4 linked regions of the Homo sapiens genome follow. The protein of the gene in region 2 interacts with the protein of the main gene of each other region in a pairwise test. Each region holds a gene or a part of one and is shown on either strand. Other genes may lie near its edges. The genes, in order: ELOVL7, UBE2J2, RBP1 and ATP13A2.

Evidence for each region.
Region 1: the proteins of UBE2J2 (region 2) and ELOVL7 interact in binary tests that used the Homo sapiens proteins (3 or more experiments, as listed by UniProt).
Region 3: the proteins of UBE2J2 (region 2) and RBP1 interact in binary tests that used the Homo sapiens proteins (3 or more experiments, as listed by UniProt).
Region 4: the proteins of UBE2J2 (region 2) and ATP13A2 interact in a two-hybrid assay, tested with the Homo sapiens proteins (one study listed by BioGRID and IntAct).

Annotation. Positions count from the first base shown.
Region 1 is NC_000005.10:60,841,243-60,849,032, forward strand, and holds the start of ELOVL7 (very long chain fatty acid elongase 7), read right to left. Parts: upstream 3,028-7,790; 5' UTR 2,918-3,027; exon of another isoform or gene 2,806-2,917; coding exon of another isoform or gene 2,180-2,805; intron 1-2,179. UniProt on the Homo sapiens protein: Catalyzes the first and rate-limiting reaction of the four reactions that constitute the long-chain fatty acids elongation cycle.
Region 2 is NC_000001.11:1,253,381-1,256,856, forward strand, and holds the end of UBE2J2 (ubiquitin-conjugating enzyme E2 J2), read right to left. Parts: intron 2,746-3,476; coding exon 2,665-2,745; intron 2,108-2,664; coding exon 1,823-2,107; 3' UTR 532-1,822; downstream 1-531. UniProt on the Homo sapiens protein: Catalyzes the covalent attachment of ubiquitin to other proteins. Seems to function in the selective degradation of misfolded membrane proteins from the endoplasmic reticulum (ERAD).
Region 3 is NC_000003.12:139,529,718-139,536,750, forward strand, and holds part of RBP1 (retinol-binding protein 1), read right to left. Parts: intron 1-7,033. UniProt on the Homo sapiens protein: Cytoplasmic retinol-binding protein. Accepts retinol from the transport protein STRA6, and thereby contributes to retinol uptake, storage and retinoid homeostasis.
Region 4 is NC_000001.11:16,987,898-16,994,930, forward strand, and holds part of ATP13A2 (polyamine-transporting ATPase 13A2), read right to left. Parts: intron 5,939-7,033; coding exon 5,732-5,938; intron 4,685-5,731; coding exon 4,589-4,684; intron 4,506-4,588; coding exon 4,346-4,505; intron 4,233-4,345; coding exon 4,112-4,232; intron 3,962-4,111; coding exon 3,837-3,961; intron 2,391-3,836; coding exon 2,230-2,390; intron 2,107-2,229; coding exon 1,990-2,106; intron 1,874-1,989; coding exon 1,794-1,873; intron 578-1,793; coding exon 425-577; intron 338-424; coding exon 241-337; intron 1-240. UniProt on the Homo sapiens protein: ATPase which acts as a lysosomal polyamine exporter with high affinity for spermine. Also stimulates cellular uptake of polyamines and protects against polyamine toxicity.

The sequences.
Region 1 (7,790 bases), on a different chromosome or scaffold from region 2:
CTCAAACTCCTGACCTAAGGTGATCCACCTGCCTCAGCCTCCCAAAGTGCTGGGATTACAGGGGCGAACCACTGTGCCCAGCCTGAGAATACTAAAATACTATATGGAGTATGATGAAGGAAAATATGCATAGAAAAAAAGAGAGAGACAAAGGCAACCTGGTTAAATATTCATTGTGGTAGAATTATGTTCAGTGGGTCTGAACTCTCTTCTTGGCTCCCTGATCTTATCCTTTTGGTACCAATTTCCAGTCTTATTTTCTCTCTCCTCAAGCCTCTCCATGCACAGCCAATTCTTTCTTGGCAATGCCTCTTGGGAGCAGTCCAGGCCCACTTCACCTTATACAGGTTTTTGTGAAAAGATTCCTATTTGGCCTGACTGTAGCCTATCTATGGCCAGAATAACACTGTCGTTCTATTGCTGAATACATCTACTGTGTTAATCTGTCCATTTATGTTTTATGCACTTTTATGTATGTGCTACGTTTTTCAATAAAAAGGTTTTTTTTTAACTTTATGTGTTTTCATATTTTGTTTTGTCAAGATAAGGATAAATGGTTTTCTGCTGATTTGCTTCATTATACCTCTAAATGTAATGTTTCATCAGAACAGCTGGGTACCTGTTTGTGACAATGGAGTGAACACAGGCTTTTCTCCCCTTCATGTACAATGTCTACCAGCTCCTACACGTTTACCAATGCAAACTCCGTAACTTCCTGTAAAACCTGGCTTAAAAATTTCCATCATCAAACCTGCCTGATGTGTGCTACCAAAATTTATACTGTATCATCTTCTACATTTATCAAGCAACTACTAGCTGTAAGGCCTGAAGATTTAATGTCCTAAGCTGTTTGCAATCTTTTTGTGCAAAGCAAACATAAAAGATGATAACAAATAGCAGAGAAGGGCATATGTGTTCAAAGTGGGGAAGAGGGAGAGTGGTGAAGAGAGGATGGGAGTGGGCGAGACTGATAAAGGCTAGAAGACACCATGTAAAAATTGGATAGAAGATATTTAACGAATGGGAGAGGAATGGCACGGCACCTTGGAGACCAGGATAATGGCAGGACCCTTAATGGAAATGAGCATCTGGAGCTGTTTTGGGGAAAAGCCGGGCAAGTCCAAGCGGAATATTATAATGTGCACTGACAGACGTTACACTAAAACTGAAGAAGACATGGAAAGCACAGAATCTTAAGCCAGATAAATACAGGTGATAGATGAAGTAACAAAGTCCCAAAAATCTATTTTTCTTAAAAAAAAAAAAAGCGGGGGCAGGGGGAGGGTGTGGGGATCCTAAACTAGTATAAAGACACATAAGAAGGAAAAGAGGGACCTGAGATTGACAGCCTGGTCAACGATGCCTGAAACAGCACGGGACTTCAGAAAATAAGGACGAGCAAACGAACTCTAGGTGAGGCAGTGTAGGACAGTGGTTAACAGCTCCAGTGCTGGAGACAGAACCCCAGAGCTGGAATCTCCTACCGCTGAGATGGGTGTGGCCTTGGGCAAGTTACTTAACCTCTCCGTGCCTCAGTTACCTCATCATTAAAATGAGAATAATATTAATATCTACTTCCCAGGATCGTTGTGAAGATTAAAAGCTTTTACACAAGAACTGACATCAGTGCCTGGCACCTAAGCACTGATAAATGTCTGCCACGGGGTGAGGGGTGGATTTTATTTAGTTCTCGGTGACCTTGGGGAGACCAATTTCTGATCAGTAGTACGAAGAGAAACTACAAAGAAAGGGAATGAATAAGCGGGTGCGTGGTAAGAACGCAGAGGCAGCCACCAGGTATCGATGACCCTTTCGGAGCACGTAAGCAATAAAAGTGAGGAATGAAATAAAGGGTAATCCGAGAGCACAGGGTTAAGTGAACATGCTTTCCGAGGGGAGATCGTAGCAAGAGGGAAAAGACCACTGGCGAGGAACTCGGGTCGCTAAAACTGTTCTTCAGTCGACGCGGGACTAACTACACTGGGAGCAGGACAGGTGTAAAGACCCGCTCCTTCCCGTCCCGAGTTCCCCAGGGAGCTCCAAAGAGCGCTCTGTCCGCACCGGGTGAAGTTTGAAACAGCTCTGACTTGAAGGGGGAAAGCCCATTTCCCAACGAACCTGGGAAAGCCCATTTCCCAACGAACCTGGGAAAGCCCATTTCCCAAAGAACCAACGATACCTGGGACGACAAAACAACAGGCTTTCCTGTTTCCATCTCCGGCACGACCTGTTCCACGGCTCTGTATTCATCAGCCTCCTCCCGGCCAGCAGCAGCCACCAAGACAGGATGCGGCTCGGGGAGCCGAAGGGACAGCGCCCCAAGTTCATCTGGCCGCGGGAGCAAAAAAAGCGCCCAAAGGGGAAGGAAGGAAACAGAAAGAAAGGGGCTCCGGAATTTGGGGGGGTGGCTAGCGAGGCCAGACCCCGGAGCTGGGAAAATGACCTCCGCGTCCAAGGTCGAGCAGGTCCTTCTCCCTCCCAGTCCCGCCGGCGAGCACCTCTGCCCCTCCCGCTCCGCTCCGCAGGGCCAGCGCCGCGCGGGACCCCAGTCCAGGCTCCGCTCCGCAGCGCGCCCACCGGGCCCGACCTTCCCTTCGGGATGCTGCCGGGTGGGGGCTCCCGAGAAGGCGCAGGTGAGCGCCGCGGCCCCGCGCTCCGGCGAAAAGGGCCTCGGTCCTCCCCACGCGCAGGCAGCGGGGACAGAACTTCCCAAGCGCCTCCCGAGCCCAGGGAGGGCCTGGCCCCGCTCCCGGGGCCCCCGCACCCGGGTCCCACTTCTCGCGCGCCGCGCCCAAGTTCCTCCATCCGGCCACTCCCGACGCCGTTCCCCTCGGCTCTGCCTCCCTCCCCAGTCTCTTCTCCTCCGCGCGCCGGGAAAGTTTGGCCCCTGCCCGCCGGCCTGGAACCCCGCACTCACCGCACAGGGAGCGGAGCCGAAGCGCCGGGCGCGCGCGGGAGAGAGGGCGGCGACTGGCAGCGCGAGCGCGGAGCTCCTCACAGCGGCCCCCGCTGTCCCGGCCGCCGACTGGGTTGGAAAGGGGAGGAGGCCGCCGGGTGTCACCTGCCCGCTATCCCACCCAGCCGCGTGACGCGCGCAGCGCCGCCCCCTGCCCGCCGCCGCCAGGTGCCCGCCGAGGGCCGGAGGGAGGAGCCGGGGCGGCGCGAGGGGGAGCGGCCGGGAGGGCGGAGGCCGCCCCGGCCTCGCCTCCGCCGCGCGCCCTGACTCTCGGGACTGGGGCCCACCGGCCGCTCTGGGTTAGCGGGGCTGGTCGTGGCACCGATGACCTTTCTTTCCGAGAGCAGATGCCATCACTTGGGGGACATCTCCAGGCTGACATAGCAGAGTGGAAATTGTCGTCATGCGTGACTCATTTGGGAATGAGCAGTAGAAAAATCCGAAATGAGGAAAACCTAGCTGAGGCTGGAGGCGGAGAAAAAGGGGACTCCTTGCTTCTGAAAGGGTATTGGGAGGGTTAATTCGCATCTGAAATGGAAGCCAGACCAAGAGGAGAAGGCCCTGGGAGGGGAAGGCCGACTTGGTTCAGCTCCATCCCCTGCTTATAAGGAATAAGAAACTAGAGAATTGAGGCAGCCTGGGGGGCATGGGGAGAGGACTTTTAGAGCAATGAAGATTAGATTGTATATCATCTAACTTTGTTTCTGGTAACAGCAACTGCTGCAGGAAAAAAAGTCTAGAAAATTCATTTCTCGTTACCTACTGTTGGATTGGAAAGTGGGGGTGGGGATGAGCGTTCGGAGTGTGCACCTGCGCTTGGTTTATTTATTTTTTAAACGTACCTGGCCTTGTGTCTGGTAATGATCCTCCTAATCGCTGGTATGATTTGGATCATCAATAGCTGAAAGGCAAAATAGGGGCCTAGAGAAGTTCCCTGCTTCTGAGGCAAAACCAAAGGCTGGTGTTGAACTGTCCAGAAACCTAAAAAACAATAATCATTTTTAGTTGCAGTCCTGACCCAACCACCTCACAAATGTGGGCTTTGAGTTTGTATTGCGAGTTCTCAGCATGGAATCAAGAAACACAAAAAGGGGCTGGGAGCGTCAGGACCACCAGAGAGGATGGGTAGGGAGAAAAAAAAAATTGGGGTGTCGGAAGCATATTTTCCTCACATGTAGGGATTGCCTTCGGCAGCTTAATCCCACTACATTAAACAAGAGGTTTTAATGTTTTTATGTAAAACTTCGAAAGTGTCCATTGAAAGAAAAGCAAAAAAAAAAAAAAAAAAAAAAAAAAAAGCTTAAATTGCAAAGAATCTCGAAGTCAAAAAAACTAAAGATTTCTCCTTTCTTTTAGATAACTTTGCTTTCATATTAAAAACAGATCATTTAGTAGACTTAGGAAGTCTTTTGGGAACGGGAGACAATTGCCTAATGATACTAGCCTTTGAGTCTATCACAATTTACCATTTATATATACTTATGAAATTTCAAATATGCAGAAGCTCAAATGGATTCATTTATTTAACAAATACTGGAGTGCTGCTATGTTCCAGGCCCTGAAGTTTCAATAGATAACAAATTCCCCGTTCTCAGGGACTATACGTTCATTCTAGTTGGAGATGACAGACAATACATGAATAAAGAAGTAAAAAAAATGTAGTGTTCAGCCAGGCGCAGTGGCTCACGCTTGTAATCCCAGCACTTTGGGAGGCCGAGGCGGGCAGATCGTGAGGTCAGGAGTTCGAGACCAGACTGTGCAATACAGTGAAACGCCGTCTCTACTAAAAATACAAAAATTAGCCGAGTGTGGTGGTGCGTGCCTGTAGTCCCAACGACTTGGGAGGCTGAGGCAGGAGAGTCGCTTGAACCTGGGAGACAGAGGTTGCAGTGAGCAGAGATCTCGCCACTGCACTCCTCCAGCCTGGGCGACAGAGCTAGACTCTGTCTCAAAAAAAAAAAAGAGGAAAAAAAAGAAAAAAAATGTGATGTTCAGGGTTTGATAAGTGCTATGAAGAAAAATAAAGAAGGGAAGGGGATGGAGACTTTTGGAGGTGGGGAGTTGTGTTAAATGTTAAAGTGGTTAGGGAAGGCCCCAGTGGAAGCAGGCATTTCAGCCCAGATTTTGAACAGGTAAGGTGACACACCTGTGTGCCTATCCAGTAACAGCATTCCACTCAAAGGGAATGGCAAGGCTAAAAGCTCTGGGGGTGTGGTGTGGGATATTCCATTCATAGACCAGCAAAGGGGAGATGTCAGATGAATTTCAGTGAGTGAGGACAGTAAGAAATGAGGTCAAAGAGTTAAGGAAGCATTTTGAGTAAAAAACTGTCATACTTTGACATTTTCAAGAGTATTTTGGCAACTTTTTTGAGAATAGGGCATGGGGTATGGAGGCAGAGAAGAAGGACAGAAGTAAGACGATGATCAGGAGGCTCTTGGGAAATCCAGATGAGAGATAAAGGTGGCTTTGACCAAGTTGGTAGTAGTGAAAGAAGATTTAAAAAAATACATTCTGAAGGTAATATTAACAGGATTTCCTGAGAATTTGATATGGGCTATGAGAGAGAGAAAAAAGAGGTCAAGGATGACTCCAGGGTGTTTGCCTTGGGTAACTCGAAGAAAAAAAATGCCATTTACTGAAAGAAAAAAAAACTGTGAAAGAAAAATGTAGGGAGAAGGGCAGGTCAGGAGTTGTTTGGCATTGCTTTAATTTGAGATACCTGTTACCTATCTAAATGGGAATGAATGTCAAGTAGGTAGTTGATTACACTAGTCTGGAGGTCAAGAAAGAGAGGTCTGGGCTAGCAATATAAATCTGGATGTAGTCAGTTTCCAGATGACACTGAAAGGCATGAGAATGGCTAAGAGCACCAAGAGTGAGAATAGAGAAGAGATTATCCCTCCTTTCCCCATTTGCTAAATTCTCACACACGGGGTTCTGTGTTTAGGCTCTTGATTCCATTCCACTGTCTATGTGTCCTGCCTTATATTTTCTTTTACTTTTACTATTTTATGTAAATGTGAAAAGAAGCTTTCTTTCTTGTTTTCAATGAAAAGCTATGGCAGGATTTTTATTTTAATTGTCTTAAAGTTATTTAGGGATAACCTGTCATCTTTATGATATTGAGGTGACCCATCCATGAACATATATCTCCATAGTTGGTCTTTCACATATTTTATTATGCTTATTCTTAGGAACCTTATAATTATTGCCACTACTATCAACGTTTTTTTTTTTTAAGACAGGGTCTCACTCTGTTGCCCAGGCTACAGTGCAGTGACACAATCATAGCTCACTGCAGCCTTGAACTTCTGGGCTCAAGCGATCTTCCAGCCTCAGCATCAGAGAAGCTAGGACTACAGGCATGCACCACCATGGGGGGCTAATTTTTTAATTTTTTGTAGAGACGGGATCTTGCTATGTTTCCCAGACTGGTCTCAAACTCCTGGTCTCAAGAACCTCCTTCTTCAGCCTCCCAAAGTGCTGGGATTACAGGTGTAAACCACCGTGCCTGGCCTGGTATATGTATTTTTAAATTACATTTTCTAAATGTAAATATAAGAACGCTAATTTTTGTTTAATGGTTGTAAATCCTTTGTCTTTACTAAATTATTAGTAATTTGTAGAGTGCCTCTGGTATTCTCTTGAGGCAACGATAACCCTTGTGAATAATTACAATTTTTTTCACTATATTTTATTCTTTAAGAGAAAATTGAACCCTGTCAACTTCTTACTCTATGTCAGTATCATATGGATTTAACTTTTACCAGTGATTCTTATACTTTACTGAGAGTCACAATGCTTGGGATGTTATGCAAGTTCCTGAAAATTATTTTGAGATGCTGATTTAGTGAGTCTGGAGAGTGGGCCAAGGAATGTGCATCTTAACACACGCTCTTAACTGATTCTGTTAAGAGTTGCTGAGACACCTTACATGTGACCTATCTTTTCTGATACTTATCATTGCCTCCCCAGCTGTGCTATAAGCCCTAAAGGGAAGATATTTTATCTACTCTCTCTTTATATCTGTGGTGCCTAGGATATTAGCCTACAAACAGTGGGTGCTAAATAAATATGTAGATGGCAAAAAGAAATTTAGAAAAGTTGTGGAATGTACTTTTGTGAGTTTCATATTTAAATGCTTTAAAATGTTTTCCTATTTTTTTATATAGATTTCATAATGATAACTCTGAGAGATAATGATAACTCTGATATCATCAGAGGAAGAACATAATTGCAATATGATAGGTTCATTGAGTAAATGACTATCAACCATTCCCACATCTTGTTTCTTTACCACAAGGTATCTGTAGCCTGCCAGACTTAAAGGCTTCATCCTTTTAATTTTTTTTGGCATTGAAATGCAAACTATGAGTTTCAGAAAAATCATTTTCTTTCTGGTAATCCTGTTCACATATCTAAGATATATGTAAAATTAATATCTCCAAGACAATGTGAGATACAGAATGAGAACATCCCTCAAGTTATTATAACAATCAATATAATTATTTTCCTGTAAACCTCAGTTATTTGAAAATACTCATGATTTTTGACTGTGAAGAATTGCCACTTATTATGATCATGAAATTAACTTTGATCTGACTTCAAATATTATAAAAATGCTTTCTGTGCCAACTATATTATCTGAATGTTTATTCAATCAGTTTATCTTGATATCACAGTTTTGTGAAGGCCAAATCTAACATAATAGTATCTAGTTAAAATTCTCATGTCCTACATTTCATAATAATAAACTGCTCTTCAAAGAGATAAAACTACTATCATAATTTACATTTTATTGCATGGGTAAATAATATACCATCAGGAAAAA
Region 2 (3,476 bases):
CTGTAGCCTCCACCTGCCGGGCTCAGGCAATCCTCCCACCTCAGCCTCCTGAGTAGCTGGGACCAAAGGTGCACATCACCACACCAGGTAGTGTTTTGTATTTTTTGTGAGATGGGGTCTCACTACATTGCCCAGGCTGGGTTCAAGAGATCCACCCCTCAGCCTCCCAAAGTGCTGGGATTATAGGCGGCAGCCACTGCACCCGGCAGTAGCGTGTTGAGTAAACACTCTATTCGTTAGCATTCCCCCTCCCATGAGCCTCGGGAGACACCGGGCTTTGGAAGTGATGCTGGCGGTCACAGAAGCGGAGATCAGGGCAGGGCTGGCATCCAGTACGGGATGGGGAGAGAGCCCTGCAGAGGGCTCTACACCATGGCTCCAGCGACGCGATTCCCTGTGGGGACCCACCTGCCCTGCAGCTGCCACACCACCCCAGGCCAGCAGGTGTGACCCCCTGGTCACGGGCCACCCCAGCCCTGAGCACAGAGATGGACACACATCCCGGCCCACACAGACACAAGCAGCATGAAATTCAGAAATAAAGATATAATGAAAGACCTTTTTTTTCCACAAGAATAGGTTAAATACATACAATTGGTAAATTATAGAGCAATTCTGAATAAACTGATCAAAAAACGAAGAAAGATGAGCGCGTGCGGGCTGGGCTTGTCTCACGCCCGCCTCCGGACAGGGTGGGTTTCTTGCCGGCGGCCGTGCCCCACCTCGACGCGATGCACCTGCGGTACATCCCACCCAGGCGAAGTCACGGAACAGACGCAGAAGAGGGGAGACGGCCGAGACCCGGGGAGCCACGCGGCCCGAAACAGCCCCTGCTGGCTCTGGCGTCTTTCCGGGCCGGGGTGCCCCTCTGCCATGTTCCGTGGACAGCGAACACCCGGGCCGGAGCCATTACCTACTGTGAAGGCCAGCGCAGGGGGCACGGGATGTGAGGGAGGCCCCCGAGTGCACGGGGCCTTCTGCAGGGACTCCGGTCCTCCGCCTTCCACCAGCATAGGAGGACGGGCTTCTGGCCCACCGGACATAAGGAATTCAGAGAAAAGGCTCTGCAGGTACCCAAGGCCCCCCAGCCTGCAGCACCGAGGGGCGCCCAGGAGGCCCGGCCTGCGGAGGGCACCGGCAGCCCCCGCCCCGCTCGCGGCCGCCGCAGTCAAGGGCGACTTGTGGTTGGAGTGAGCAGGCTCCTGGCTTCCAGGGCAGCAAAAACCCCCAAGCACTTTCTAGAAGGAATGTGTTTCATTCTGACTGTAAACACATTTGTAAATGCTGAGACCAAACCCCGACTTATGGATCCTGAGCCACGGCCGTCACTGGCCCCGCTAAGCCTCATCACCACACGGCCAGGCCAGACCAGCACCCGCGGACGCCAGCTCCACCCCTGGGCCCCGAGGTTCCCACCCGCTGAGGAGCCGGGAGCTCCGAGAAACGCGCCAGGAGCTCCAAGAACGCAGGAGCAGCCCGCGGTCGGCAGCAAGTTTGCATTTCTAAGTGACCACATCTAATAAAATGAAAAACGGGTTTACTAAAACAGGTCCAAAGACAACACGGAAGATAAGCTACAAATCCAGCACACAAGGCCCACCCACACCAGCCCCAGCGGCCCGTGGCCAGGACAGGGCTGAGGCTCCAGTCTCCTCCAAAGCCCAGTCACACATTTTGGTTTTTGCTTCCCCTTTCAGGTTTTTAAAAGCTAAACCTAGGAGCCTGGTGGGTCTGCCTGTGCTGGGCAGTGTGTCCAGCCTGCCGAGGTCACGCTCTGGTGCGCGGTGCCCTCAGTGGCGCCTTGGGTCTCGGCGCCTGGGCCTCACTCCTGCGCGATGCTCCTCAGCACGTACTTGACCGTGTAAGCAAAGGCTGCAAACCCAACTATCACAAACAAGTTCGCCAGGGCGCCACCCAGGAGTCCGTGGTGCCGGTTGGCCTGCTGGAGCCCTGCGAGGTTTGGGACGGCCCCCGGCGCATGCCCGTTGAGCAGCTGAATCCCGTTCTGGACGAGGTGCGTCTCCCCGTCTGGAACCACGTCTGGCAAGGGGAGAGTCTGGGGTCTGCTACTGAGTTCGTCTTGTGCTTTCTGTTTTTGTTTAATCTCCTAAGAGAAAAACAGCGAGAAAAGCAGCTGGTCTCCAACCAGCGCCTTTCAGGACCAGCACTCCCGTTCTCAGGAGTCCACGGTCCACCACCAAGAACCAAGCCCTAGGCTGTGTCAAATTCCGACCCCATCTCACAGGTGAGGGCCCGAGCGTGGCCGGCCTCACTGGCCCTGTGCCCCTTGGCCCCTGCACTCAGGCAGACCAGAGCAAGGCTGAGCCACAGAGGCCAAGACCAGGGAGCACTCCAGTCCCAGTCCCACATGGCAGCCGCTGTGCCTCCCAGCTATCCCCAGACACCACCCAGCTGGCTGCTCAGAACCACGAGCTCCACGCCCCTGTGGGACAGGCCCAGCCCCCGGCCCACCAGCACAGCTGTCCGCAGGCCACCCCCCAGAGCCCAGGCTTTCTGCCTCCCCTGCCTCGGGGCTCCTGGGGGAGAGGAGCCATCCCCTGGGGAGGTCTGCAGCTTCAGGACACAGATTTTACTCTTTGGAAAGAGGTGAAACTCAAGTGTTTTAACGCAGGGGAAGGCGAAACCCACTTCCGTCTTTCTTACCTCCACGACTTCAGGAAATAATTCACAAAAGACTTTATCTTTCAAATTAAATGCTAAACTCTGCACTGCCAGTTGTCTTTTCTAGGAAGGAAGGGAAGGGAATCAGCCAGAAAACTAATTTCAATTCTTTCAAGATTCTAAAAACAGATGATTTCAAAGTCAAGGGCTGCAGTCTTCGTGTTGCAGAAAGCATTTAATAAGCACACTCTTCACAGCAAACTAACTTATAGTCTTACAAAGCCTTCTTAATCTTCCCCCCATCAATTCATGATATCACACTTGATTCCTATTAAAGACAGGGAAAAACAAGCCACCAAAGCACCGGGCTCCCCGCTGACAAGGCCCGGGCCGTCTGTGCAACTGGTACCGCCTTGGCCCACCCCAAGATCCCAAGGAGGAGCCCCTGGCGGGTGTGGATGAGGCTGGATGTGGATAAAAGCAAGACCGAGAGGCAGCGGGGAACACGAGGCCACAGAGCAAAGCAGTCTCCACGACAGTGCCTGGGACAAGGTGGGAACTCCACCCAGCCCCGCCTACTGAGAAGAAAGGCAGCTGCGGCCGGGCGCGGTGGCTCACGCCTGTAATCCCAGCACTTTGGGAGGCCCAGGCGGGCGGATCACGAGGTCAGGAAATCAAGACATCCTGGTTAACACGGTGAAACCCCGTCTCTACTAAAAATACAAAAAAAAAAATTAGCCGGGCGTGGTGGCGGGCGCCTGTAGTCCCAGCTACTTGGGAGGCTGAGACAGGAGAATGGCGTGAACCCCGGGGGGCGGAGCTTGCAGTGAGCCGAGATTGCGCCACTGCACTCC
Region 3 (7,033 bases), on a different chromosome or scaffold from region 2:
CATAAGGAGTGAGGGAAGGAATAGGGCTGGAGAGACAGGCAGGGCCATGATCTGAAGAGCCTGAGTGCCATCTGGCTTTTACCCATCAGCACTGGGAAGCCCTTGGGAATTTTGAGCTGGGGAGTAGCATGATCAGATTCCCTTTTTAGAAAGGGAGGGATGGGCTGAAGTGTTGAGCATGGTAAAATGGAGATGAATGTGAAGATACTGCAGTAATTAAATGAAATAATCCATGGAAAGCGCTGAGCCTGGCACACAGTAAGCACGAGAGATGTTAATTGTTATTATTATTACTGGCACGAGATATTCAGAGCAGTGGGAATGAAGAAAAACAGGAAGAGACGTTAAGAAGCAGAATCTATGGAACTTGGTGACTGAATGCCTATAAAAACTTTTCATTTATCTTCATAGTGATCATTTACACGGCTACATAGTGGTCTATGGAATTAAAAAGCCAGTCTTTCTAACCACCCATAGTTATTTGATATTTAGGTATACCAGCAGGAGACAGCCTGTTCTATAAAAACCATACAAAGTAGGGAATCAGAGACATCCGAAGTGAGATCACAAATCTATGGTTAATCAGTAATGTGAACCTGGGCAGGACCTTTGGCTCCCTGTCTGTAAAATGGGAGAGTAGCACCTCCTATCCAGGATTGTTAGGAGATTAAATAAACATAAAATGACAGGGCAGGGCCTGCCGCATAGTAGGCCCTGAGATAGTGGTTATGCTTCTGTGGGTTGTTGAGAATTATTATCACAGAGTGACTAACAGATACCTTTGTACAAATAGAGTGATTTTCCTGGAATATAATCCCATAAGTGGGATCCCTGAGTCAAAGAGTAAGATGATTTTCTGATTTATTGCACATTGTGAGAAGATTATTATTATTATTTTTTATTTTCTTAGTGCAGGACCAGTTCCACTGTAAAGCTGGCAAAGGTAGGTTTTGGAGACTGGGTTCCATGCCATCCCCACCTTCACACCCATCTTGTTTATACCATTCTTTCCCAGAGTATTCCTATGCTATCCTTGGACCCTCAGTTCAGGAAAGACAGAGGGAAGAAAGAGGGAAGGGGTGGGAAGAGGAAGGAAGAAAGGAAGAACGCACTAATCCCTGTATTAAAGGTAGCTGGCACCCTATGGTGTTTGCATTCTTGGAAACTACCTGCCACGTAGTGAGGAAGCCCAGGCACCCAGCAGAGAGTAAGTGTGGGTTAGCCATCTGGAAAGTGGATCCTCTACCTCCCCACTGGCAGGGCAGGCAGCAGGGACAAGGCATCCCCACTGAGCCCTGTCCAAATTGCAGATTTGTGAACAAAATAAATATTGTTGAGTTAGGGTACTAAGTTTCAGAGTGGTTTGTTACACAGCAACAGGAAACAGAAATAATTCATCACCATATTTAATTCTCACATAACTCCATTAGGTGGGTATTACCCTTGGCTCCTTTTACAAATGAGCACATTGAAGCTCAGAGGGATAAAGTACCCTTGCCAAGGAAACAGCTGTACGGCAGAACCAGGATTCAAATCCAGGTCCATCTCAAAGTCAAAGCTCCTAATTGCTCTGTTGTACCTCACACCTGTCCAGCTGCACACACTATTGGTATCACTTACTTGGACCCTCAATTGCAAACCACTGTGGGCTGCTGCAAGATTGAGGTCCCCAGGCAGTCTTCATCCCCCACTACCCTGATCCTGGGATGGAGCTACACCTACCTATTCTCATTCATCCCCTAGAACTAGGCACATTTTACCCCAGCACAGGCTTATTACATTGAATCATGATGAGAAAAATCACAGGAAACTAGGCACAGGCCAGCCTGCTTCCTTGTTTTTCTTTGTTAGTAGTTATCAAAAGCATGGTCCTTGAACCAACAGCATCAGCATCATCCAGGAACCTGTTAGAAAAACAAGTTCTCAAGCCTCACCCCAGACTTTCAGAATGAGAAATTCTAGGGGTAAGGCATGCTCAAATTTGAGAACCACTGCTCTAACTACTTATGTGGGTCTTAACGCTTGATATCTGGAGTTTGAATGTCTTAGGATGTTTTCAGATGCAAGTGGCAGGAAACCAATTCACATAACTTAAGGTGAAAGAAAAAAAATGTATTGGTTGAAGTACATGGAAAATCTAGGAATGGTGCGTCAGGAACTCTAGTAACCCTCTAATGTTGCATTCTCTCTGTCTCTATTGGCCTCATCTTTTACTTTCCTTCAATTGGATTTTTCCATGCAGCTAAGGAAGGTGGGGTAAGGGGACTGGCCTCAGAGAACACCAAGCTTACATCATAACAGCTCATCAACCTTTAACGGAATAGAACTCACCTGTCTCTCAGGGTTCCTAAATTAACTCCCAGGAAATGGTGACTGGCCCAGCTTGGGCCACATACACAAGTATGTGACAGGCCACGGGACACTGTGATCACCCTATCAGAAGGTGCTCTTCCCAGAAGAGACAGGGTACTATGATTTGCAGCCCCACCAGGACCCAAAAGGTTGAGGAGGAGTAATTCCCACCATAAAGAAAACAGTGCTTCTCTTGGGTGGGAGGTGGAGGAACAATGTTGGTCAGAAAAACAAACAGCTGTAATTCATTCAGTAAATACCTGGCCATCATAAGTGATTATGCCATGCCCCTCAGTCTCGGGTATCACAGGCCCTGGCCCTGTTCTCACATAGTATTGTGGCTTCCCAAGCTCATGTGCCCTGTACTATCTCTATGGTCCTCAGCTTTGCCTTGTGAGACACGCTGAGCAGCAATTATGATGCCCGTTTTGCAGATATGAAAACAAAGGCAGTGTGTCTAATCATTTAAGGCCGCTGTCAGATAATCGAGAAGAATTCAAATAGATGTTCTGACTCTAATACCGGTGCTCCTTTCACTCATCCTAGGCCTTGTCAAAACTGCCTGGGTTTACCTTCAGACTGTGAGAAGGCTCACAATAAGGAACTGAGGTGCTGGCCTTCAGCAAAGCTCTGTGGGAGACCTTGGGGTAGAGAGCTTTATAAACAGACTAATTAGAATTCTTCCTCTGCCACCAGCTAGCCCAAGGGTGACCTTGGGCTAAAAAGGCACTTCACTTCTTTGAGCCTCAGATTCTCATCTGTGAAATGAGTATAATGATACTTACTGAACAGCATTTGTTGTGGGGACCAAAGGAGAAAAAGTACAAAAAGCAATTGGGGCAGGCATGGCACTTAGTAAAGATTCAGTACATGTTATTTTCCTTTGTTCCTGCCTAACAAAACCCAAAACCCAACAAAGCAGTGTGATTTTTGAAAGCTACTTTGTGAATTTTATTTGGGTTGCTTTAATTCTTCTTTTTGTAATCCTCAAAAGCACGCTGCTGACACCGATTTCAAAGGTCGGAGAACTTTAGCTAAGACATGAAAGAGATCCTGTGTTTCTAGCCTGGAAAGGGCCCAGCTGAATGCCGGGTGCCTGATCTGGGCAGGGGCAGCTCTCAGAGGCTCCCACATCCAACGGCATTCTCAGCGCTGCAGCCCAGGGAGTTAATTTAGCCAGTGGCATTGTGTGTGCGTGTGTGTGTGTGTGTTTTTTAAAACAAATCAAAAAATCTCTTTAATGGGTCAAGAATAGGATCAGAAAGCTGGCAAGAGTTTAAACCAAAGTGTCAACAGTACTTTGTTGGATTTCATGTATTACCATATATAATTAGATGGATGGATGGATGGGTGGAGAAATAGAAGGATGTAAGTAAGGAAGTCAAGGGAGGGAAGGAAAGGAAACATAGACGGTTAAAAAAGAACTTAGAAAATCTGTAAGTGCTGATATGGAAAAATGTGTAAGAAATATCACTGAGTTAAAAAAATATGTAGAGAAGTGGATTCCTTTTTTTCTTTTCCTTTCTTTCTTTTGGTTTTAGATAGAGACCTTGGCCAACTGCCTAATCAATAGATAGATCAATTATAAGTCTGAGGAAGATTTCCGGACAGATCCACCAAGTGGGAATCAGGCCAAGTGGGGGAAGGGGCCCTTTTCAGCCCATACTTTCTTGTGCTATTTGAATATTTTCCTTTTATAATAAAAACAAAGAAAGCGACAGAGGGGCGGAGGGCTGGGAGCAGAAGGCAGGCCCTGTGGAGGGGTCATCCTAAGTTCAACGATGGATATGAAGCTGAGGCTCCAGCCACAGGGGGAGGCGCCTGTTCCCCGAGTGAACAAAGCCATCTCCTACAGGAAAAACATGACCTGGACACGGGGATGACAAATGGCCCTTCTGCCACCCCCGCAGAGCCAGGCTCACGGCTGTGATTCCTGGCCGAGGCTCAGTCTTCTCCCACAAAACCTGCTCATGCTGGGGGGACTTCGAGACAAAGAACCAAATCATTTTGAGGCGCTCGCTTCCTCGGGAGTGAGAAAACACTATCTGAAGTCAGAGCACCTTCCTTTCTCAAGAGCTCCCACCCTGCCAAAGCACATATGTGTTATATTCAACAAATGCTGCTGGTTCCTTGCTGGGCCTGATCGCACATTTTTATGGACAAAGGCATGCAGGAAGCAATGGAGAAAAGCCCTGTGTCTGTTCAGCTGAGCCCAGACTTTGTATATCTCTACCAAAATAGTGCCTGCTGTTTGTGGTCACATAAAATCTGATTAGATCAGACTGGAAATGTGAGCCTAGTGATGCAGAGCCGCCCAGATCTGAGTCCCTCCACCCCTCCACCTGGGGAGAGAACACAGAGCTGTTTCAGGTGGTTCTGGGCATGGACTGCAATGTCCATAGGACTCAGGTGATGGGCCAAACTGGCCCTCTACATGCCCATGGCCCTGTACACCTAATTTTACAGTTTTCCATTTTTTTATAGAGACACAGGAACAGAGTATGTTTCTTTACTCCAGAGCAGTGATTCTTAAGCTTTAGTTGCATCAGAACCACCTGGAGGGCTTATTGAACCACAGATAGCTGGCCCCACTCCCAGAGTTTCTGATTCAGTAGGCCAGGGGTGTGGCCAGATAATCTGTATTTCTAAGAGGTTCCCTGTGATGCTGCTGCTGCTGCTGCTGCCTCTGCTTTGGGATCCACAGCTCTAAAGGAACCCACAGTGCAAACAGCGACAAATGGCCATTTGATCCTTGACTTCAGGTAACAGGATGGGCTGAAGACTGTGGTAAACTAGGAAATGTAACATCTAAAGGGAGCAGCTGCAACATATTCCAGGGATCCACGCAGTGCAGGAATAAACAGGTGCCCAGTGTTTCCAGGGCCTTTCCTTTTCTTGTTGTTTTTGTTAAGAACAGCCAGAAATACGGATTTTCTGTGAAATCTTACAATCTTTGGCAATTATTGGCAACTGACTCTGAAGCTTTTCAAACATTGTACAGGCCAAACAAAACACATCTGCAGGCTGGGTTTCACCCTCTGGCTGCAGTTCTAGAATACAGATAAGGTTCCCATGGAAAAGAGGCAGGATCAGAGATCTCTCAGCCAGTGAGAGCCTCTGCCCTTTGGGGAGGGATGTCAGCCTGGCCACACCTCTCCCAGCAAGGACTCACAGAGGCCTGTCAGGGTCACATCAAGTCTCCCTGCCAGGTTCTCCTGGCTCTCTTCTCTCCCAGCCACATCTTGCACTCCAGGCATGCTGAAGTCTTCGCAGACTGCTCCTCTCTCACCTCTGAAACTCCCTCCCAGCCAGGCTTTTCTGACCCTGGGCCTTTGTACATGTGGTTCCCGCTTACTGGAAAGCTCTTATCCTTTTCTCCACATCTGCCCTAATTAGTCCTTTAAGGCCCCTCTCAGCTGTCGCCTCCTCTGGGACTTTCCCTGACCACTGCTTTCCTACTCCCAGCTGTATGCTCCCCAGCCCACCGTGCTCCCATCATGCATTGAGCTGTAATGGCCTGAAGATGTGCCTGTCTCCTCCACTGGCCTGGGTGTCCAGAAGGCCTTGTTGCCTCTGCGACCCCAGGGCCAAGCCCAGGGCTTGGTGTGGGACAGCTTTCGGCCGTGGCCTTTCTTTCAACCCCTTTCTGTTTGCCTGGCTACTTCCTGTCTATCCTATAAGCCACAGTTCAGACTCCAATTCCTGTGGGAGCGTTCCCTGACCTCTCAGACCGAGCAGGGAGTGCTTCTCTGCCTGTATCAGCACAGTGTCCACTACGTCGTGATTGGCTGCTTCAATTTGCCTCCTCCTTACACTGAACTCCATGAGGGCAGGAATCGTGTGTGATTTGTCTCATTGACACAGGGGTTGCAAAGATAGTGGAAGCACCATGAGATGCTTGTGGTGTCCAGAGAGGAATGAAAAAAATAGACGAATGACCGATCCCAAGTGAGAATGGGACTCCTGTAATATGCTGGGAACAAACTCCTCTGGGCCACTGCTCCTGGCTGATGGGTGCCCAGTGTGTGAGGCAGAGGGGGTAGCAGTGAAAGTGATCTTTGGCAACCACCTTGTCCAGGACCCCTGGCGGCCCTCAGAGAGCCCAGCTGGTGGCCTCTGGGTACCCAGCTCCCCTCCATTCACAAGTCTCAGGCCTGACAGCTGCTCTAATTCTATCATCCTACCCCCATCCAGCCATGTCCTTCCGGCAGTCCAAAGCAGCATACCACCCAGCGGCCAGCCCAGAGAGAAGGGCTTTTCTGTACTGCATGGGGCTAGGCGAAGGCTTGAGCAGAGCAGACAGGCTGTTCCATCTCCCAACAGGCCACAACAGGTGAGCGAATGGCTATCTACTTGAGAGTGGGCATCCCTGAGTCCTGGGGCAGTGATAGTAACCATGCATCCTAGACCAGTTTCACTGGATTCGTCCAGTGGCTGAATCTGCACGGTCTGCTCGACTACTGCTTGATGCTCGATTGACGCTGATGCTGTAGTGAGAAGAAAAGGTGGCCCTTGTCCTTTCCTTTGTATCCAAAACCCTCCCTTCTACCTCCCTGCTTTATTTTACAATGAAGCACAGAAGTCACCTCTTTCAGAAATTCTTCTGGGATCCCCTTCTCTGGGTAGTCCCCATCCCCTCACTCCCACCCTGTGCTTTTCTTTGCCACACTGTGTTGCGAGT
Region 4 (7,033 bases), about 16 Mb from region 2:
TGTTAGCCCATGACAGCTGCTGCCATTTGTGAGGACCTAGTGGGTACCAGGCTCCGTGCCTGGTGTTTTTCTCATCTCCCCCAAGCCTTGCCACCTCTCCAACCACACAGCCGGAGAGTGGCAGGGTCAGGATCTGGGCCCACGTCATCTATTCTGGGACCTGCCAGCTCCAAGGCACAGGGCTGTGTCCCCTCCCTAGTCCTGGGACGGCTCTGGGTACGGAGCTCTGCAGATACTCACCGTGTAGAGGATCAGGACGGAGATGAACTGGGTCAGGCTGTACAGAGCCATGTACTTGAAGACGCTGAACGAAGTGTCAAGGGAACAGCGCCCCTCCCTGGGTGGCAGGGCACGGACATTAGGGGACCCAGGTTGGCTGACCAGCCCTGCTGAGCCCTCACCCACCGGTCCCTGCCTGCCTTACCTGATGACCATGGGCACGCACTCAATACTGGCCATGCTCGAGGTGAAGGGTGAGACCACTGAGGCTTCTGCCTGGGACAGCGAGATGCCGACATCAGCCGCCTTCAGGGCCCCACAGTCATTGGCGCCGTCTCCGCACATGCCCACGCAGTACCTGAAGAGAGGTGTGGACAGGTGTGGCCTGGGGAATTACCCCACCACCCCATGGGTGGGCTGGCAGAATATGATGACAGCTGGGCCCCTAATGCCACATGGTGCCTGGTGTACAGGAGGCGCTCAGTGAATAGATGCAATTATTATTATTATTATCATTATTATTATTATTTTTTGAGACGGAGTTTCACTCTTGTTGCCCAGGCTGGAGTGTAATGGCATGATCTCAGCTCACTGCAACCTCTGCCTCCTGGGCTCAAGTGATTCTCCTGCTTCAGCCTCCCAAGTAGCTGGGATTACAGACGCCCGCCACCACGCCTGGCTAATTTTTTGTATTTTTAGTAGAGATGGGGTTTCACCATGTTGGCCAGGCTGGTCTTAAACTCCTGATCTCAGGTGATCCACCCGCCTCGGCCTCCCAAAGTGCTGGGATTACAGGCATGAGCCACCGTGCCCGGCCTATTATTTTTTGAGACAGAGTCTCCCTCTGTTGCCCAGGCTAGAGTGCAGTGGCGTGATCTCTGCTCACTACAACCTCCTCTGCTGCCCAAGTGCCCTCAGCCTCTTGAGTAGCTGGGATTACTGGTGTGCGCCACCATGCCCAACTAATTTTTGTATTTTTAGTAGAGACAGGGTTTCACCATGTTGGCCAGGCTGGTCTTGAACTCCTGACCTCAGGTGATCTGCCTGCCTCAGCCTCCCAAAGCGCTGGGATTACTGGCATGAGCCACCGCGCCTGGCCTATTACTATTTTTTGAGACGGAGTCTCGCTCTGTTGCCCAGGCTGAAGTGCAGTGGTGTGATCATGGCTCACTGCAGCCGCAGCCTCCCAGGCTCAAGCAACCCTCCTGCCTCAGCCTCTTGAGTAGCTGGGATGACCGGTGTGTCACCACACCTGGCTAATTTTTAAATTTTTAATAAGAGATGGGGTCTCACTTTGTTGCCCAGGCTGGCCTCAAACTCCTGGGCTCAAGTGATCCTCCCACCTCGGCCACTCAAAGAGGTGGGATTACAGGAATGAGCCACCGCACCCAGCCTACAATTATTATTTTTAGCATGAAAGACCTGGGAGAGCCTGCCTGCTTTTGGTGAGGAGGGGTGACAGCTCTCTGGTGCCTGAGGAGGGAGACAGGGCCCTGGGGAAGGACAGATGAACAGACGAACGGACAAGCTCAGTCTCCGCAGGCCCTTGCCCACACCCTCTGCCGAGCACTCACTGAAGCTTCTGTAGCTCGCACACCAGCTCTGTCTTCTGCTCAGGGGCCATGCGGGCAAAGACAGTGCCCTGGACCAGGACCTGGGAGCACAGGGAGATGGGGGAGGGCTGAGGCACCCACCAGGGAGAGCGAGCCGTGAGGAAGGAGACAGAGCAGGGGAGGCGCAGGGCGGCCAGGGAGCTGGGGGCGGCCCTACCTTGGGCAGCAGCTTGGGGAAGTGCTTCACAATGATACCAAAGGTGGGCCCGCTGAGGGCCAGGTGCCTGGATCGGGGGTCTGGCTCCACGGTGTAGCTTGCAGCCTGGTCAGGATCCTGGGGGCCCAGGAAGCTCAGCTTAGCTCCCCCTGCCCACCCTGGAGAGTTGGGGCCTGGGTCAGGTGACACAGGGGTGGGGTCACTGGGTGAGGTACAGCTGGAACTCTGGGTTAGCCTCACCTTAACGCCATTCACGGCTGTGGGGGACTCCATCGGCAGGAACTCGAGAGAGGCAGGCTGACCCCGCTCAGGGTGGGTGGCGTGGACGATGATCAGATGCTCCTGGGGGGCCACCATGCCACAGCCCCGGGCCACAGTCACCGCTGTCTGCAGGTTGTCCCCTGGGGGTTATGGGGCAAGGTGAGGGTCTGAGGCTATCCGGGGAGGCCATCCTCATCCTGATCCTTACAGATGGGAAAACAGGCTGGATGAAATCCGTCTGCCACCACCAGCCAAGTGAGCTGAGGCAGGTTACCAACATCCCTTTGCCTCAGTTTTCTCATCTGTAGATCCAGGCATTGAAGGGTCTTAGGAGAACCTGGAGCCGTGGGCTGGAGCTCCACATATACTCCTTTTTTTTCTTTTTTTAAGACAAGAGTCTCTCTCTGTGGCCCAGGCTGGAGTGCAGTGGCTTGATCTCGGCTCACTGCAACCTCCTTCCTCCTGGGCTCAAGCAATTCTCCTGCCTCAGCCTCTTGAGTAGCTGGGATTACAGGAGGGTGCGACCACACCAGGCTAATTTTTTTTGCATTTTTAGTAGAGATGGGGTTTCACCATGTTGGCCAGTCTGGTCTTGAACTCCTGGCCTCAGGTGATCCCCCTGCCTCGGCCTCCCGGAGTGCTGGGATTACAGGCACGAGCCATGTGCCCAGGCTACATATACTCCTTACTGCTGTGTGACTCTGCTGCCAAGTGCCCATGAATGTGTGTGCACATATGTGTGTGTGCAGGGGCGGGGAGGACAAGGACACAGACCTCTTAGCTCCTGCTGTCTCACCCTAGCTAGAATCTTTTTTTTTTTGAGACTGGGTCTCTCTCTGTTGCCCAGGCTGGAGTGAAATGGCGTGATCTCAGCTCACTGCAACCTCCACCTCCCGGGTTGAAGTGATTCTCCTGCCTCAGCCTCCCGAGTAGCTGGGATTACAGGCATCCACCACCATACCTGGCTAATTTTTTGTATTTTTAGTAGAGACGGGGTTTCACTATGTTGGCCAGGTTGGTCTCGAACTCCTGACCTCAAGTGATCCGCCCGCGTCGGCCTCCCAAAGTGCTGGGATTACAGGCGTGAGACACTGTGCCCGGCCATTTTCGTATTCTTTGTAGAGACGGAGTTTTGCCATGTTGCCCAGGTTGGTCTTGAACTCCAGGGTTCAAGACATCCTTCTCCTTTGGCCTCCCAAAGTGCTGGGATTACAGGCATGAAGTACCGTGCCCGGCCAGAATCTTTCTCTTCCTGCTCCTTGAGCTTGTCACAGCCTCTGAGGCTGACATCATTATCCCCATTTCTCAGAGGTGCCACCTGGAACCCAGGCTGTCTGACAGCGCACATGGGTTCCTTGGAAGTCACTCCACTCCTCTGAGTCTCAGTTTCCTCATCTGTCAAACAGGGGTGACAATTACCACTTGCGGGGGGGATATTGTGAAGATTCACGAAATGTTTAAAAAGGACCTGGCCTGAAGCAAGGGCCCAAAAAGATGCCCCAAAAAGGAATCCCTGGTGCCCCTCTTCTCTGCCAGGAAGGGGCGGATTCTGCCCTGCTAGCCCGGGCCCCTACATGCCATTGTACCTGTCACCATGACGGCGCGGATGCGGGTCCTTCGCAGAGCCTGGATAACTGGCGTTGTCTGCGGCTTCAGTAGGTTCCTCATGACCAGCAGCCCCAGGAGGCTCAGGTCTCCTTCCACAGTGTCCCTGGAGGGTGGGCAGACCTGGATCAGAGGTCATGCAGTGGCCAGGGCCCCTCTCCCAGCCACCAGGCAGGGCATCTTCCTTGGGCTCTGCCTGCGTGAGAGCCTCCCTCTGCCTAGTCCTCAGAGTGGGTGGGACAGGAGACAGGCCCACCTCGTCAGTTGCTGGGCTGCCTCCAGGCTGGGCACAGTGGGCAGTGGCTTGCTGGCCAGGGCCACGACACGGTAGCCAGCAGCTGTATAGCTCTGCAGCATCTGGGCGAAGTCGGTGGGCACTGCCAGGGAGAGGCAGGTGTCACAAGGAGGGGATGGCAGGGACAGAGGCTGGGTACCCACCCCATTCTGTGCCAATGCCCAACCAGGGGGACTCAGGGGCTTCCCCCTGCACCTGTCTCGGGGTTGCAGAGCCCTGCCACCAGCTCCGGGGAGCCTTTGACGTAGGCCTCGGGCTGAGTGGCCCCTGGCCACGCCACCACCACACTCATGCGCTGCAGAGCCGAAGAGAAGGGGAAGCGGTGGAGGACGCTGACTGGCACCGGGGGCTCCTCCTGCAGGGTTGGAGAGGCAGCTGAGGTGCTGGCTGGGGAGCCCACCCCTCTGCCCTGCACCCAACAGGCCCCCCTCAGCTCACCATTGCCTGCAGCTGGGGCTCCCAAAGTGGGGGTCTCATCACTGCCAAGACCTGGGTCCCAAATGCTGAGTCTGCAGCCGGCTCTTCCTCCAGGACCTGGCAGGCAGGCAGGGAAGTTTGGTGTCTGGGGGCTTTGGCTCACAGAGAGATTTGAGCTAGACTCAGGGAAGACTTCCTTCATGGGAGACTGAATGGTGGGTTAAGAATGTGGGCTTTGGAGCCCGGTGGACTCAAATTCAAACTCTAGCTTTGCTACTTACAAGCTGTTGGGTGACCTGGAATACGTCACTCCAAATCTCCCAGCCTCAGCATCCGTGAAGCAACATTTGAGCTTGCTTGCTAGGGCTTGGGGAAGAGGAAATGAGACCAGGCCTCTGTGGCCGTGCGCTGGCGCATAGTAGGCACTCAGCCTGAGGCCTTGCCATTATTATTATGTTACTTTTATTTTAAGACAGAGTCTTACTCTGTGACCTAGGCTGGAGTGCAGTGGTGTGATCTCGGCTTACTGCAACCTCTGCCTCCCGGATTCAAATGATTCTCCTGCCCTCAGCCTCCCAAGTAGCTGGGACTACAGGCATGTTCCACCGCACTTGGCTAATTTTTGTATTTTTATTACAGACGGGGTTTCACTATGTTGGCCAGGCTGCTTTCAAACTTCCGACCTCAGGTGATCTGCCCACCTCAGCCTCCCAAAGTGCTGGAATTACAGGCATGAGTCACTGCACCTGGCCTATCATTATTATTTTTTGAGACAGGGTCTCGTTCTGTTACCCAGGCTGGAGTGCAGTAGCGTGATCACAGCTCCCTGTAGCCTCGCCCTCCCGGGCTCAATTAATCCTCCCACCTCAGCCTCCTGGGACTACAGGCATGCACCACCACGCCCGGCTAATTTTTGTATTTTTGGCAGAGATGGGGTTTTGCCATGTAGGTCAGGCTGGGGTCCCGGGCTCAAGTGATCCTCCCGTCTTGGCCTCCCAAAGCGCCGGGAGCCACGTTACAGGTGTGAGCCACTGCGCCTGGCCTATTATTATTAATGGTGGGCATAATAAGAGACCACCCTGAAAGATGGAGAGGGAAGACAGGGTGGGATTCGTTAGGCCCCACTGCCCAGAGGCAGGGGGCTGACCTGCTTGGCCTCCTCACCCAGCCAGTAGACTCCACCATCTTCAAGTCCATGGGGTCGCCCACGGGGGTGTCCTGGAGCCGGCTGAGGGCATGGCAGGTGGCCAGTGCTCGGAGCAGGGGCCCCACAGGCAGGCGGCGAGGCTCTGGGACCAGGGGCAGGAATGCCTGCCCCTTCAGGGGCACCACCCCCATCACGTCTAAGCCGTCCTCAGTGAGGGTGCCCGTCTGTGGGAGACAGGTGGGTGGGGCAGCGATGAGTCCTGGGATGGGGGTACCCTGCTGAGCTGGGCCTCCAAACCCCAGGCCCGGCGGACCCTATGGGAACCCCAGGAACTCGAGCTGGAGCCAAAAGATGACCTTTCTTGACTGCTGTCCTTGGCACATGTGATTCCCTCTGCTGGGGTCCCCCTCCCCAGCCCCCACCGTCTCTCTGTCTAGCATCATCTCTTCCAGGGTGTCTTCCTCCTTAACTCCCAAGTTAGGGCAGGTGGTTTGCTCTGGGCTCCTACCCATGGCCTCTTCACTTCCCCACACTTGTGCATTGTGGTTAAGGACCCGGCCCACGGTTGGCTCGCTCTCTCTCTCTCATTTATTTATTTATTTATTTATTTATTTTTATTTTTATTTATTTTTATTTTTTGAGATGGAGTCTTGCTCTGTCGCCCGCGCTGGAGTGCAGTGGCGCAATCTCAGTTCACTGCAACCTCCACCTCCCGGGTTCAAGTGATTCTCCTGCCTCAGCCTCCCGAGCAGCTAGGATTATAGGCACGCGCTACCTCGCCCACCTAATTTTTGTATTTTTAGTAGAGACGGGGTTTCACCATGTTGGTCAGGCTGGTCTCGAACTCCCGACCTCAGGCAATCCACCCGCCTTGGCCTCCCAGAGTGCTGGGATTACAGGCATGAGCCACCACGCCCAGCCTCAATATATCTGTTGAATGAGCGCATGAGTCAGTGCCTGCGTTCCCCATCCTAGACTCTAACTGCCCAAGTACGCGTCTGGCTCCTTGGCTAGCCTGGGAACTATAAGAATCTGGTCATCCCCCTCCCCGGTTTATTTATTTTTTTTTGAGACGGAGTCTCACTCTGTTGCCCAGGCTGGAGTGCAGTGGTGTGATCTCAGCTCACTGCAACCTCTGCCTCCCGGGTTCAAGCGATTCTCCTGCCCCAGCCTCCCGAGTAACTGGGACAACAGGCATATGTCACCGTGCCTGGCTAATTTTTTATATTTTCAGTAGAGACGGGGTTTCACCATATTGGCCAGGCTGGTCTTGAACTCCTGACCTCATGATCCACCCGCCTCGGCCTCCCGAAGTGCCG